Regions from separate parts of the Homo sapiens genome. Here region 2 is linked to region 1. A link means that fine-mapping ties the variant in region 1 to the expression of a gene that starts in the linked region. Tissue or cell type: whole blood. Region 1 holds a variant in brackets; the other region holds the start of a gene. All regions are shown on one strand. Distances are between the middles of the regions.

Region 1 (2,757 bases):
TACAGGAGCCTGCCACCATGCCCAGCTAAGTTTTGTATTTTTAGCAGAGATGGGGTTTCACCATGTTGCCCAGGCTGGTCTTGAACTCCTGACCTTAGGTGATCCACCCACCTCAGCCTCCCAAAGTGCTGGGATTACAGATGTGAGCCACCCCACCCAGCCTCCCTCTAAAGTTCATATGTTGAAATCCTCACCTGCAATGTGATGGTGTTAGGAGGTGGGGCCTTTGGGAGGTGATGAGGTCATGAAGGTAGAGCCCTCATGAATGGAATTAGTGCCCTTTTGAGAAGAAACATGAGACAGATTATTTTTCTCTTGATTATGTAAGGATACAATAAGAAGACAGCCATCTGCAAACAAGGAAGAGAACCCGCACCAGACAAAGAATCTGCCAGCACCTTGAGCTTAGACTTCCCAGCCTCCTTCACAGTTTTCCAGAACTATGAGAAATAAATTGTTGTTTAAGCCACCAGGACTATGTTGTTCTGTTCTATCAGCCCCAGCTGACTAAGATTGCAGAGAAAGGCAGAGGGAGCTATGCAAGCAAAAGTTTGAAGGGGAGAAAGCAGAGGCATGGTGAGATCCTGCAACCTCTCTTTGTGGTCAGACCATAGGAGGCTGGTAGGAAGGGAGGCAAGAGAGGAAGGCTGACGTCATCGGAAAGTCTTTGAATCCCAGCTAAGTGACGTGGACCCACCCTACAGGCAAAGGCATCCTCTGATTGATTTTAGGGGATGCAGGATAATCAAACCTGAGTTTTAGGAAGGTAACTGTTGATAGCGGGGCAGGGACTGCAGGCAGAAAGGGAGGTAGGAGGAGTCAGGGTGATTCAAGTAAGCAGCAGTGATCCCTGGCCCAGGGTAGAGGCAGAGGCGTATTTATCAGATATTTATCACCCACCTGATCTCAGTCAATTTCCTTGGGGATCTCAATGCACTCATTCACACTAAAGTGTAAGTAACAAGACCTGGCTTTTACCTCCCCTGGAGCATTTATGTTTTACCAGGACAGCGTCTGGTGGTGGAAAGACAGTGGAATTTGAAGCTTTCTGACTGTTGTGCCACTAATATGGTTTGGATGTGTGTCTCTGCTCAAATCTCATGTGAAATTGTAATCTCCAGTGTTAGAGGTGGGGCCTGGTGGGAGGTGGTTGGATCATGTGGGTGGCTTTCTCATGAATGGTTTAGCACCATCTCCTTGGTGCTATCCTCGTGATAGTGAGTGAGTGATGTGAGTGAGTTATCACAAGATCTGGTTAATTAAAAGTGTGTAGGCTGGGCACGGTGGCTCACGCCTGTAATCCCAGCACGTTGGGAGACCAAGGCCGGTGGATCATTTGAGGTCAGGAGTTCAAGA[C/T]CAGCCTGGCCAAGATAGTGAAACCCCATCTCTACTAAAAGTACAAAAATTAGCCAGGCATGGTAGCATATCCCTGTATTCCCAGCTGCTCGGGAGGCTGAGGCAGGAGAATTGCTTGAGCCTGAGAGGCAGAGGTTGCGGTGAGCTGAGATTGTGCCACTGCACTCCAATCTGGGCAACAGAGTGAGACCCTGTCTCCAAAAAAAAAATTTTTAAGTGTGTAGCACCTCCCCTCTCTCTCTCTTCCTCCTGCTCCCACCATGCAGGACGCCTGTTCCCGCTTTGCCTTCTGCCATGAGTAAAAGCTCCCTGAGGCCTCCCCAGAAGCAGATGCTGCCATGCTTCCTGTACAGCCTGTGGAACCATGAGCCAATTAAACCTCTTTTCTTTACAAATTACCCAGTCTCAGGTATTTCTTTATAGCAGTGTGAGGACGGGACTAATACAGCTATCAACAAACCAGGTGACCTTGGTCGGATTATTTATCCTCTCTGAACTTCAGACTCATCTATAAATGGGAACAATGACACTACCATCGCAATTGTTGTGAAGGCCAAATAAGATAATGTCAATGAAGAGAGCCCTGTGAATCATCAAGAGAGACGTTGGCCTTTTAATGAAACTGAATGAATAAAGTATTCATGGTAGAAGTTTCAGGCATGAGCAGCGAAGATGAGGCTGGTGATGTGTCTGTGTGTACTCCTGGAGGGATCCCACCTTCAGGCAGCTGACCCCCACATGAAGCTTAGGGGCTTCAGGAGAATCAACACGAGAGCTTATACACCAGGGAACAGTATTAACTGCAATTGCTACAATGCCACACTTGACATATTCAAGCCTTGGAGAAAAACTGTAAGTACGGTAGATTCTTGTTATTTGGGTAGTTACATTCTATAAAGTCTCTGGGAACCCAGAATTAGCAAGTACTGACCAATTGCTCCTAGTGGAAATACAGGATTATGTTCTTGCAAGCCTGTGATCACAATGTTTTTTATCAATTTTTAAAATTAGTTTGTGACTGGGCATCGTGGCTCACGCCTGTAAGTAATCCCAGCACTTTGGGAGGCCAAGGCAGGCAGATCACTTAAGGCCAGGAGTTCGAGACCAGCCTGGCCAACATAGCAAAACCCTGTCTCTACTAAAAAATACAAAAATTAGCCGGGTGTGGCACATGCCTGTAATCTCAGCTACTTGGGAGGTTAAGGCACGAGAATCTATTGAACCCGGGAGGTGGAGGTTGCAGTGAGCTGAGATCACACCACTGCACTTCAGCCTGGGCGACAGAGAAGACTCTGTCTCAGATAGATAAATAAATAAATAAATAAATACATAAAATCAATGTATAACCTTGTATTATATGTGTTTCTGTTTAAGGACACCTTATTTAGGCATTGTGGCACT
Region 2 (2,757 bases), 24 kb after region 1:
GGCAATGTGCAGGCCAACCTCCCTCTACTTCCTTCCACCTGAGTCAGGGCTGAACCAACTTGAAAGAAGGCTCATCTCACCCAGGTATCCCCCTCCCAGGGCTTCCATCTTCCTCTCACACACCTGGATCACATTCTGGACCGGCCAACCTGGTGCCTCAGGGGAAAGTCCGGATCTGCTGGGTTGGCCACTGGCCCAAGCCTCCCATGCCCTCAGTTGGCCCCAGGAACCTCCCCCCTAAGATGTCCGGCTCTGAAGTAGAATGCTAGTCCTCATTCTCTCTGTAGGGGAAAGAGAAGGGAGGGAAGGAGAGAAGAGGGCCCAGTCCCCCGGGGGCTTACCTGCCTTGACCTCAGCACTGAGGTGGTGGGTAGCATGAAGGAAAGATGGTGCGCCCGGTGGTTTAGGACACGAGGGTCCCGGTCCCGAGGCTCTGCCGGGCCCGCACTGTCTGGATGGCCTGCTGGTTCTTGAACTTGACCAGGCCTAGGGTGATCTGGGCGTTCCAGCCGGGATCTTCCAGGGGGCAGCGGAAGTCGATCTCGCCGCCCCCTTCGGTCACCAGCGTGAAGTAGATGTGGCGCCCGGTGCTCTCCACGCACTCCACGGCCTTGATGCGGGCGAAGCTGAGCTCCTTGGGCCGGCCGCCCGTGCCCTTGGCCTCGAAGAGCTGCAGCCCGCGTTCGGTGAGGACGCAGCGCTTCCGCTTCCACAGCTGCAGCAGCCCGCCGCTGCGCTTCTCCAGCACGCCCTCCTTGAGCACGGTAGCCGTCGCCGCCGCCGTCATGGGCGCCCCGAGGTTCGCGGAAAGCTCCAGGCTGCGGCGGGCGCGGCGCCCCTCTCGGCCCCGCAGCGCAGGATTCTGGCGCCCCGGGCTGGCAGGCCGTGCGCGCTGCCCACCTGCGCCCTGACTGCTCCGCGCACCCACACCGCGGCCCTCAGCACCCGGCTGCCGGTGAGGTGGTGTCGGTGCCCCCAGCGCGCTCCGCGCCCACCGCCCCGCTTCAGCCGGCACCCGCTCCTCCGCTCTACCCCAGCTGGCCCAGCCCGACCCGCCTCTGCCAGATGCCTCCGCGCCTCCCTAGGCCGTGAGCCCCACCGCCCGCCCGTTCTCTTGCTCCCCTGGGCTCTGTCTGCGCGCTGGGCGGCAGCTCGCGGGATGTGCCCTTACATGTTCCGCCGCTCGCCTCCTGCGCCGCCCGCCCGCAGCGCATTCCTACCCTGGCCGGCCCTCCCCTCCGCGCCGCGCACCAGCTCCGGCAGGGCCCCGGGGGCGGGGCCGCAGCGGGGGCTCAGTCACTCACTGGAGGCGCAGGGCGCGGGGCGGGGAGGGCCGGGACTGAGAGGGGGCTGCTTACTCAACAGCCCAAGCCTTCTGGCTGCCGTCTGCCGCTTCTCGGAACCGCAGCTCCCCCAGGCCTTGAATGAAGGGGGAGATGGCGGGGAAGGGAGGGGGAAGGCGCATCTCCTCGATTGGAGAGCGCGCTGCTAGCAAGGGGGTGGGCTTGCTTGGCGAACGCGCAGTGGCACCAGTTGCATGTTAGGCGTCAGACAGCTGCTGGTTACTTGGCACGCCATGGGGCCCCCAGCCTCTGCATCAAGCCCATGTTGGGTTCCTCCTCCATCGCCCGATTTCTCTGTGCAGCACCCAAGAGAGGCTGTCCATCGCTGCCTCTGCTTGGACAGTTCACCTGCTCCTACTCCTACCCCCATGCATTGCGCGGGGAGGCCTGTAGAGAGTAGCCAGTGCCAACAAAGGAGAGCTGAGGCTTGAGGTCATTCATGCCCTCCTCGTAGTGGGGGAGGAGGGACCCCCTCCGTGACCTGGGGATGCCACTGTCTGCAGTCCTCTCCACCGCACACTTGCAGGCGCCGACGCTGGACCGATGGCACAGCCAGTCCCAGGTGTAAGCGCAGCTCCAACCTTGCTCCTTCCGCTCCGCAGATTCTGTCCTCCCTCGGCCTTCCCCAAGAATGGACTTCTCCCGCATACAGAGCTGGAGGGGAACGCAGAGGGAGAGGTCTCTTTCTGTTCTGGCTAGAATATTGTGTAAACACAAGAGCTTTGCAGAGTTGAGTTCAAACCTCTTCTCCCTTGTTGGCTGTGTCCTGCCCACCTGGGGCAACTTTACTGACCTCCGTCAATTTCCTCATCTGTCGAATAGGAGGATTAATTTATTCTCATCTCATGGGGTTGTCCTGATGAATAAGTTGGATAACATTTGTGAAAGACCCAAGACAGGACCTGACAACTCTTGAGTCTCAAGAAATGTTCTTCCTCCCCTCTCCCCACTCTTATTCCCTTTAGAGAATGATGGGGGCCCTGAGATTAAGCCAGGCACTGGAAGAGGGCTCTCTTAGGTCCTCATTCTGTCCCCATCTTGATCAGTTCCTCCAGGCCCACAGTTTCTTAAAGGTCTATTCATCAACATGTTAATAATAGATTCTTACGGGAGTAATGATATATAATAATGACAGTAATAAGACCTCTTTGTACTTACACCCTGTGTTGCCATCCTCCTGCCCAAAGAGCAGAGCCTAACAGATACAGGGAAGGTCCTGTTGTGGGGATAGGAGTGCGCTCCTCTGCAGTCCCAAAGTTAGGAGATGAGAGAAGGGAACTGTCAGTGTCTCATCCATAACTCTTTATACACACACACACACACACACACACACACGTGTGACGACAACTAACTCCTAACTCCCAGAATGCCCCTCCAGGAGAGGGAATAGACAGTGGCATTAAAGAAAAGACAA

What was found. PIP is the estimated chance that this variant, and not a neighbour inherited with it, causes the effect. A credible set is the group of variants that fine-mapping cannot tell apart.
Region 2: PHLDA3 starts here. The variant in region 1 is the best candidate, but not a certain one, in a credible set for the expression of PHLDA3 in whole blood (TOPMed, PIP 0.55).

The regions. Positions count from the first base shown.
Region 1 is chr1:201,444,338-201,447,094 of GRCh38, forward strand. No RefSeq gene overlaps it. Among named protein-coding and RNA genes, the nearest start is that of PHLDA3, 23 kb to the right of the region's middle. The variant C/T (reference allele first, on the strand shown) is at 1,357.
Region 2 is chr1:201,468,000-201,470,756 of GRCh38, forward strand. PHLDA3 (pleckstrin homology like domain family A member 3) reads right to left here and starts at 1,189. Exons shown (of 2, transcript NM_012396.5): 1 at 342-1,189. The coding sequence starts at 787. The coding sequence ends at 404. RefSeq lists enhancers at 369-428, 499-638, 860-1,574, 1,089-1,208 and silencers at 709-1,018, 1,229-1,458.